Linked DNA regions of Homo sapiens. The protein of the gene in region 2 purifies or fractionates together with the protein of the main gene of each other region. This does not show direct contact. Each region holds a gene or a part of one and is shown on either strand. Other genes may lie near its edges.

Evidence for each region.
Region 1: the proteins of SGPP2 (region 2) and RNF185 purify together in Homo sapiens (affinity purification with mass spectrometry; one large-scale study listed by BioGRID and IntAct). This does not show direct contact.

What each region holds. Positions count from the first base shown.
Region 1 is NC_000022.11:31,191,060-31,195,912, reverse strand, and holds part of RNF185 (E3 ubiquitin-protein ligase RNF185), read right to left. Parts: intron 3,230-4,853; coding exon 3,211-3,229; intron 445-3,210; coding exon 332-444; intron 1-331. UniProt on the Homo sapiens protein: E3 ubiquitin-protein ligase that regulates selective mitochondrial autophagy by mediating 'Lys-63'-linked polyubiquitination of BNIP1.
Region 2 is NC_000002.12:222,429,811-222,435,474, forward strand, and holds part of SGPP2 (sphingosine-1-phosphate phosphatase 2), read left to right. Parts: intron 1-5,664. UniProt on the Homo sapiens protein: Has specific phosphohydrolase activity towards sphingoid base 1-phosphates. Has high phosphohydrolase activity against dihydrosphingosine-1-phosphate and sphingosine-1-phosphate (S1P) in vitro.

The sequences.
Region 1 (4,853 bases), on a different chromosome or scaffold from region 2:
TCCCGCCATGCTTTATACATCACTGATGCAGCAACCCTGCTCCCTGGAGCCTCTCCTGCTACATATCCTGCTTCCCAGGTTGCAGAAATGCTCTTTCACAGGGCTCTGCACACTTGTGATTGTGATGTCTGTTCACTGCTGGGTCCTAGCAAGTGGCAACTTGGATCCCCTCTCTTCCCTCCCCTCCTAGCTGACTCTCATCTGGATGAGACTGCTTCGAAACCAAGAGATCATCTAGTACTAAGTAAAGGGTGGGGTTAGGGGATGCTGAATGGGAGTGAATTCACATCCAAGGGGAGAAGTGGTTGGGAGAGGCATCCTGAGTCCTCACCTGGGGTCCTGTTGCCCAGTGCTGCCCCTTCCATAGAGGGGGATGACCTTGTCTCGGCTGATGCCAGCTTTGCAAACAGGACACACCTGTCTGTTAGGTCTGGTCTCCAACCACTGCAAACAGGAGAGAAAAATGCATGTGGATGGCCCAAGACCCACCAGAGTGATCAGCCAGAGCCACCAGAACAACACAGGCCAGAGGCCTCAAACTGGGAAACACCAGCATGAGCAGGGAACATCTCAAGGAACCTGACTCCCATTCCTTCTCCTACCATTCAGCAAATACCTACCAGTGGTAAAATCAAAATTGCCTTTAAATATCATCATAATTGGCCGGGTGCGGTGCTCATGCCTGTAATCCCAGCGCTTTGGGAGGCGGAGGTGGGTGGATCACCTGAGGTCAGGAGTTCAAGAGAAGCCTGGCCAACAAGGTGAAACCCCGTCTCTACTAAAAATACAAAAATTAGCCAGACATGGTGGCGCATGCCTGTAGTTCCAGCTACTCGGGAGGCTGAGGGAGGAGAATCGCTTGAACCCGGGAGGCGGAGGTTGCAGTGAGCCGAGATTGCACCACTGCATTCCAGCCTGGGCAACAGAGCAAGACTCTGTCTCAAAAAAAAGAAAAAAAATCATCACAATTAGGCTTCTTCATGCTTTGTTTCTCTCTAGGGCCTCCTAGCAACACAGGGGGAGGGAAACTGCAAGTCTGGGGCTGTCAAGTCTGACATGCCCAGCCTCAATTTAGGCTGCTGGTGTAAGTACAGCAAACTTTAAATCCCCACCTTCCCAGTAGGAGCAACTGTATTTTCCTGTCAGTCATATTCTTCTTTCTGTGATTTCTCATTTTTTTTTCCCCAGACAGAGTCTTGCTCTGTCACCCAGGCTGGAGTGTAGTGGCATGATCTCAGGTCACTGCAACCCCTGCCTCCTGGGTTCAAGCAATTCTCCTGTCTCAGCCTTCCAAGTAGCTGGGATTACAGGCGCCCACCACTGCGCCCAGCTAATTTTTGTATTTTTAGTAGAGACAGGGTTTCACCATGTTGGCCAGGCTGGTCTCAAACTCCTGACCTCGTGATCTTCCTCCCTTGGTCTGCCAAAGTGCTGGGATCACAGGCATGAGCCACCGCGCCCGGCCAATTTCTCATTTTTATAGCATTTTCCCAACAACTGTGTATCCCAGGCATCAGAATCAGGAGATAAGCTGATCATTTTCTGGTGACTTACCACATGCTAAAGGATAGGTTTTGCTCATTATCTAAATTTGCTTAATGCTTTTTGTGTACTTTCATTGATTTTTTGCATTCACCTATTTCTTTCAATATAAAAAAAATCCCGTTTTGGGTTTCTCAGGCCCTTTCACTGGTTACATTAAAATTTTTTGTTTAGGCCAGGCGCGGTGGCTCACGCTTGTAATCCCAGCACTTTGGGAAGCTGAGGCGGGTGGATCACCTGAGGTCAGCAGTTCAAGACCAGCGTGGGGAACATGGTGAAACTCCGTTGTCTCTACTAAAAAGACAAAAAAACTAGCCGGGTGTGGTGGTGTGCACCTGTAATCCCAGCTACCCAGGAGGCTGAGGCACAAGAATCGCTTGAACCCGGGAGGCGGAGGTTCCAGTGAGCCGAGATCTCACCATTGCACTCTAGCCTGGGCGACAGAATGAGACTGTCTCAAAAAAAAAAAAAAATTAATTTTCTTAAAAAAACAAGTGATAAAAAATGTTTTTGGTTTGTTTTTGTTTGTTTTTTGCTTGTTTTTGATTTTTTTTTCGGTTTTTTGGTTTTTTTTCTCGAAACAGAGTCTCACTATGTCACCCAGGCTGGAGTGCAGTGGTGCAATCTCAGCTCACTGCAACCTCTGCCTCCCAGATTCAAGCGATTCTCGTGCCTCAGCCTCCCTAGTAGCTCGGACTATAGGCGTGCACCACCACGCCCAGCTAATTTTTATATTTTTTGTAGAGACGGGGTTTTGCCATATTGGCCAGGCTGTTCTCAAACTCCTTGCCTCAAGTGATCCACCTGCCTTGGCCTCCCTACGTGCTGGAATTATAGGTGTGAGCCACCACACCCGGCCAAAATGTGTTTTTATAGACATTCTATAAACATGAATCTAGGACTTCAGGGCTGAGGAGATGGCAGCACTGAATGATTTTATTTACTACTCTTACTGTTCATAGCTCCAAAACTTAATGTGTTATGTGTTCTTCATAAACTCATAGTCAATATGTACTACCAGGTCCCGCTGGGGACAGAATGTGCAGCCCTGTTCCCACCTTCTTTCTCCCATCCAGATTCTGAAGCTTTAGCAGTCTGGAACTTCTGTCCTCCCCCACATTCCCAGGCCACCTACGAGTGTGGTACTCTACTGCTGACGACCAGGGAGACTTTCAGCAGGCTGTGATTATTCACAGCCACTTGTGAATGCCAGGCCCAGCTCTGTCTCACCAAGTAGGTGCTAAAGCTAGGAAAATAGACTTTTCTCTCCTCACAAAAGCTCTTTGTTGACACCAAAAAAATTTTCCCCTTCCTAATATTTTCATAACCTTTAAGGGCTGGGGGACTGTTGATATGATAGGAGGCACTGTTTTAATAGAAGCAGAATCTCAAAAATAAAAAGGACCTAACTAACATACTATCAATCCAATCCAATTTATAAATGAGTAACTGAGATCCAAAAAGGCCCTCTGTGGCAGAATTAGGACCATCCCGATTTCATCAAGTGTCTGTCAGTGGACAGGTATGTAAAGAAGGCTGTGGGGGTAAGTAAGCAAATGAGCCCACAAGCAGGGCAGATTGCAGCTTCTGAAAGCAGTCTCCTGAGACTAGGGCTCTCTTGTGCAACCAGAGCTGATGAAAGACAAAGTAAAATGAAATGCATCTTACCTGATGTAAACACGGCCAACTGCCAGAGTCCCCAGGGCAACCAGTCATCAAGGAGAAGGAGAAAAGGGGAAAGGAAGAAAAATGTTTTCATTAGCAGAAACACTTGATGGGTGGAGTGGTAGTAGCAGAATGAGAAAACAGGAGTAAACTATGGAGCACTGCATGCCCATTGAGGTTCTGTAGGGATTACTGGTATCGGAAATTAAAAAAAAACTGGGGTAAAAATCACAGAAAATAAATAACGCAATGGAGATAAGACCCCAGCCTCTGCCCCTGAGATCTCAGTATATGTGAAATCCCCAGGGCTCAGACCACACAGACCCAGCTTCTCTACAAATCACCCTGTGAGAGGTTACAACATCTGAAGGAATCCAATAAAAGCTAAGGACACCCTGTGCAAAAAATTGATGGGGGCATTCACATACACATGTACTACACACTATTTTACACTCAATTTCAGTGGGTTCATAGTCTCCTCGGGCTCACAAGGGATGTGTGGACTCTCAGGTAGTCCAGATCCAGTTTAACAAAATCTTCAGGCTGTCCTCATCCTTGAGAACTCTCCTAGCAGGAAGCAGCTTAAAAGTTCAGGTCTACTCTAAAAGCATCTTTAAGTAATAGAAAGGATGGGGATGCTACTTGACAGAAAGGGTTACCTTCAGCTTAGAGAGCTGCTGTCCAATCTCTCTCCATTTTCAAATGAGGAAACCAAAGCTCAGAAACATAAAATGAACTGCATCAGGATTAAAAAAAAAAGTCTCCTGACTTCTAGTTCATTGCCCTTTCTATAATCTAACACCACATACAAAAAAAAAATGATATCTACAGAATTGAAAGAAAAGTATTCAACTCCACTTTTTTTTTTTTTTTTTTTTGAGACGAAGTTTTGTTCTTGTTGCCCAAGCTGGAGTGCAGCTCACTCAGCTCACTGCAACCTCCACCTCCCAGGTTCAAGCGATTCTCCTGTCTCAGCCTCCTGAGTAGCTGGGATTATAGGTGTGTGCCACCACGCCCAGCTAATTTTTTGTATTTTTAGCAGAAACGGGGTTTCACCGTGTTAGTCAGGCTGGTCTCAAACTCCTGACCTCAGGTGATCCGCCCACCTTGGCCTCCCAAAGTGCTGGGATTAAAGGTGTGAGCCACCGTGTCTGGCCCACATTTTTAATTTCTTTCTCTCGTTTATTTAGTTAACACATATCTACTGTGTACCTACTATGTAGGCCAGGACAGTGGAAAATGCAGGCATGGCTTCTGTACCTCACATACCAAGTATCTTTAGCTGAGTACACTTTGAACTCAAAGGATAGTTCCTTTTCCAATTCCTGAACCACAGTTTAGCTTCACAAACCAAATACACAATCTTCCTGGCCATAACATCTGACTCCAACATTAATCTTGCAATGTCATTCTAAACTGAGTGGAGAATAACCCCAAATCATGGCAGATCTCCACTGGCAAGTTCCCTTAAAGACTCTAGGGGAGAAGTGGAGGTGAATGAATGACCCTCAGGGGAAAGTCAGGCTTTATAACAACGACCATTCCTCCCATTTATTAAGCAACGATAGTCATGTATCACTGAACGACAGGGATAATTCTGAGAAATGTGTCATTAGGCAATTTCATCATTGTGAGCATCACAGAGT
Region 2 (5,664 bases):
CTACCGAATTGCCCTACAGGAAGAGTCTGCTAGGGCAAACCACTACGAGGGCAGGTTTTCCCACACACTCACCAATGTTAGGTGTTAAACCTCTCTTTAATCTTTGGAGAAAATAAACCACTTTGGCTTCTATCTCACCTTTGCTTTCTTCATTTCCAGTCAACATCCATTGATCACTACCATGTTTCTGGGACAGTCCTCAGACTTAGAGACATAAAGATCAATACAATTTAGTTTCTTCTGTGTGAAAGCCCAAATAAAAGGATGCAGTGCAAAAAATAAAAAAAATACTAGAATAGAACGATGAATACAAGGACAGGAAGACAATAGCAGGAGTAACTCACCTTCCCAGGGGAGCCCATGAAGTCTTGAGTTGGGGCTTAAAGAGTGGGTAGGAATCAAACAGGCAAAAATGGGAGAAGCTCTTTCTTTACCTGGATTCTCATGTGCTAGAACATAAAGACACGTGTCATTTTTGGTGAATGATGACAAGTTCAGCTTGGATATCATCAGAGTGTCAGCAGGAAATAGTTGGTCTACTTAAAAAGGGTGATCGAAACCTTAAAAATAGTTAAAATGGTACATGTTATGTATATTTTACCTTAATTTTCTTAAAGAACATAGGCTCTATTCCACCTTTTAGGGAAGGAAGCATAGCTCTCTATTTCTTTTCTTCTTTTTTGAAAAAAATAGAGACAGGGTCTCACTATGTTGTCCAGGCTAGTCTCGAACTCCTGGGCTCAAGCGATCCTCCTGCCTTGGCCTCCCAAAGTGCTGGGATTGCAGGCATCAGCCACCACAGCCAGCCTCCCTATTTCTTAAACATGGGCTGCACATAGTGACTTCCTTCCAAAAAGTGCGATATAGAAAGAGAAGGGGGAAAAAAGTAATTTTACAGTGTAGAAACTTGACAGACACTCCCTTGGCCAGATGATCAAGGTCAACATCACCAGTGGTAAGTCATGTTGACATCATGTTCTCTTGATGCATATTAAAATTATGTATTCTTGTTACATGTTGAGGGTCATTCTGCAAAATATCTGACCAGTACTCTTCAAAACTGTCAAGGTCATCAGAAACAAGGAAATTCTGAGAAGCTGTCACAACTCAAGAGGAGTCTAAGGAGGCATGACTAAATGTTATGTAGTATCCTGGATGAGGTCATGGAACAGAAAAAAAAAATTAGGTAAAAAATAAGGAAGCCTGTGTAAAGTATGGACTTCAGTTAATAATAATGTATCAATATTGTAACAAATGTATCATACCAACATAAGATGTTAATCATAGGGGTACCTGCCTACAGAGTATAAGGAAGGCTGGGAGTATATGGGAATTGTGTATTATCTTTTCAATCTTTTTATAAATTTCAAACTTTTCTTAAAAAAAAAAAAAGTCTATTTAGGCCAGGCATGGTGGCTCTCTTGAGGTCAGGAGTTGTAATCGCAGCATTTCGGGAGGCCAAGGAAGTCGGATCACTTGAAGTCAGGCATTCAAGACCAGCCTAGCCAACATGGTGAAACCCTGTCTCTACCAAAAAATATGAAAATTAGCCAGGTGTGGTGGCACACGTCTGATGTACCAGCTACTTGGGAAGCTGAGGCATGAGAATTGCTTGAACCCGGGAGTTAGAGGTTGCAGTGAGCCAAGATCATGCCACTGCACTCCATTCTAGGTGACAGAGGAGACCTTGCCCCCCGCCCCCCGCTCGAAGTCTAAAAATTTTACAAGGTGGGGGTAATTGAAGGACTATTTACAAAGACGTGGGCAGGGTTGGAAGAAAACCAACATGGGAGGATGAAGCATCTTGGAGCAAGCAACTTCAGCCTAAAAAAGCAAGAACAGGGAATAGGGTTCGGGTAACCCCAGACCCACTGAGAGCTTAGATGGCAGAGGGAATCCCCTGACCAGAGCTGAGGCCCTTAGCAAAGAAAGGCAGCCACAGCCAGGCAGGAAGAGGTTGAGGGGTGGGGATCAGATCTCAAGCTCATTCTCCATATGCCTTCTTTCTCATATCCTACCAGTGCCCCCACTTTAACCAAATTTAGCCCATAGTCAGGGAGCTTGGGAGCTGGCTGAAGCAGTCCATCAAGGTCAGCCTCCCTGGAGAAAGGCAGAGAGTGGACTGGAGAGGAGAAATGGAACCCACCCAGCGCAGGTTGCATGAAGAAATTGGTGTGATAATACAGCTGCAGTTTTGGGCTGCAGCCAGAGTTTTAGGCTGAAGCCTTAATGTGGCTTACTGCAGAATTTGGACTTTATCCTATAGACAAGAAGATAGCAGTCAATTTCATCCCGTGTGCCAAATCGGAATTGGCAACTGAGAGCACTGTGTTAAGAAGGGATCTCAGGCTGTCTCTGTGCAGGATTGATGGAGGTGCTTGTGTGAGTATGGAGGGAGCCCAGTGGTGAAGCCTTTTAAGAAATAGTGATGTTAGATTCAAGCAGCAACAAATGTAGGACTCACATGAAATCAAACCTTAATGTCTGTTTTGGGTCCTTTGTGATACTTCTATTGTCACTCTCACCCACAGATGATTTACGAGGAAAAAGCACAAATGGTTTCTTAAGACAGAGGTTGCCATGTTTTGAATCATAGGATCCCATCATTATGACTACAAGCTGATTGAGCCAGGGCTCAGCCCTGGAGTGAAAGGCAGCCTTCTATAGGCTGGTCAGCATTTTATGACATGGCTTGGCATGGGGACGTCATCCAATTAAGATCATGCATATTGTGTAGTGACTAACAGACTCAATCGAATTGCTCCCTCAGCAAGTCTGAATGCAAGACCCAGACATAAATGTTAGAGTTCTGACAAACCTCAGAGAAAAGAGGGAGGTTGTAAAGAAACAGAAGCCTCAAGACACAGGAAACAATAGGAACTCAGAAGCCAGAGGTGGAGGGGGGAATGAAAAGTCTGTAGAAAAGATAGGCCAGATACGGTGGCTCACGCCTGTAATCCCAGCACTTTAGGAGGCAAAGGCGGGTGGATCACCTGAGGTCAGGAGTTCGAGGCCAGACTGACCAACATGGAGAAACCCTGTCTCTACTAAAAATACAAAATTAGCGGGGCATGGTGGCACATACCTGTAATCCCAGCTACTCGGGAGGCTGAGGCAGGAGAATCGCTTGAACCCAGGAAGCAGAGGTTGCGGTAAGCCAAAATCATGCCTTTGCACTCCAGCCTGGGCAATAAGAGCGAAACTCTGAAAAAGAAAGAAAGAGAGAAAGAAAGAAAGAAAGAGAGAGAAAGAGAGGAGAGAAGGAGGGGAGACGAGAGGAGGGAAGGGGAGGGGAGGGGAGGGGACAGGCAAAGCCAAACAAAGCAGAAAAAAAATTTCTGAATGGAAAAAGAAGCTAAGACTTGAGTATGGCAGATTCCACTGAGCATGAGAAGCTAGAGGAACTGTTATGTTTCAGGATAGAATGGCTCAGAGAGGACCTTAGGAAAGAAGCTGGCTGTGTGGCTGCTGCAGTTTTCTTAGTTCTTGAGGAATTATATTATAAACCCCTCTCAGTGGAGGGAGCCTGTGGGGATCTCGCAGTGCAACCAGAATGTGCTGATCCCTACTACTTTGAAGGATTTACACTTAATTGCAAGTAGGTCGTTATTTCTCTCACTGTAGTTGCGAATGGTGGCTGGTGAGGAAGAACAATGGGGAGAGGAAGTTAGATCCCTCTGCTCACCTGTGTACCCTCAGGGCCTGACATGCCTGGAGCAACCAGGTACTTAATCCTACCTGGTGAATGGAAGCTTGAAAGGTGCGCTAAACTCGCCTTTGTCTGACTTGGCAGAAATTTGATCACCTGCCCTTTCCTGTCACAACAGAGGTAACTTATCCCTGGACACTTGGCCTGGCTGTGTCTTCTTGTAGCTTGATGATTTTTTTCCCCCCATGTTGGCTCCTTCCTTTTTATCCAGGAAACTGATAGAGGGTTTTGATTAATGAATAACTTTTTAATTGCTTTGCTTTCTTCTGATGGATGCCATGAAGGGAGGTATTGCTAAAAAGTTAGTTGATGGTGAAACATCTGACAAGTTTAAAAATGTATTTCAATTACTATGTTTTAGGAAGGCTGTGGACAGCCGGCCTGGTGTGATTTTAACTTTTTTGACTTCTAATTAAGATGTCAAGACATTTGCATTTTTCAAAAAGCACTTTCACTTCCTCTTGTTACAGTTTTCGTTAATGATTAAGTCCTCTGTGGTCCCGATTAGAATTATATCCTGAACTAAGGCATTCTTGCATTTTATCCAGCAGGAGATTTTCTTGTGAGAAAACACTGTCACAGTTTCCAGGCAACGCATCAAGAGTGTTCCTGTCTATATTAGGAATCTATGAAAATACCAAAATTTGGGGCATCTGCAGGTCTTTATTATTCTTCTTGCCTGGTGAGATACATTCCATATACTGAGAAAGTGAAACATTGAAAAATCAAGGCGAGACTGTGACTTGTATTTTTTGATTAATTAATTTTTAATTTTATAATTGACACATAATAATTGTATATGTTTATGGGGCACAGCGCAATATCTCAGCACGTAGGTGTGTGACTCATGTTTTTTGTCCCCTCAATCTTGCTTCAAGCACAACAAAAAGTCCCTGAGGCTTGGGCCAGAGCGGATGAAAAGGGAAGGCACCAACTACCTAAGATCTTGAAGGCAAGGCTTGGGAGTCTTGGGAAAGGGGGCAGTGGTTTCCCTCAACCATTTTAAATACTATTCTCTCCTCCCCCAAATGCTCATTGGCAGTGCTATACCTCTATTGTTTAATGAGAAAACACCTGGTTCATTGTTACTTTGTTTATTTGGTAAATGCCTTCATAAGAAATGCCCTTTCTGTCATCTCAGGGTATGTTTTGATTTGTCCAAATGGCAAAAATTTTGTTTCCATAAAATTTTATGAAAAACTGCCCATCAAAGCAAAGATTCCTGTGGGTGTGGTGGTGAATGCACAGGCTGCTGGGGTAATGTGTCGGCAGCTAAAAAAGACCAGGCCTTAATTGGTAGAGAAAGGGCTTAGGTGAAAGATAATTAAAGGGTGGCTGTGAAATAGAACATCAAGTATTTTGTTTAAAGCTTGACAAATGGAAGGAGCCTCTGTTAGAAGTTGGTTTGTATATTAGGGTTCTCTAGAGGGACAGACCTAACAGAATGGAGATATATACACACACACACACACACACACACACACACACACACATATGTGTATATGTGTGTATATATATGTGTATATATATACACACATATACACATATACATATATATATACACATATATATATATGGAGTTTATTTAGTATTAACTCACACAATCACGAGGTCCCACAATAGGCCTTCTGCAGGCTGAGGAACAAGGAGAGCCAGTCTGAGTTCCAAAACTGAAGAACTTGGAGTCTAATGTTTGAGAGCAAGAAGCATCTGGCATGGGAGAAGATGTAGGCTGGGAAGTTAGGCCAGTCTCTCTTTTTACATTTTTCTGCCTGCTTATATTCTAGCTGAGGTGGCAGCTGATTAGATTGTGCCCACTCAGATTAAGAGTGAGTCTGCCTTTCCCAGCCCACTGACTCAAATGTTAATCTCCTTTGGCAACACCCTCACAGACACACCCAGGATCAATACTTTGTATCCTTCAATCCAATCAAGTTGACACTCAGTATTAACCA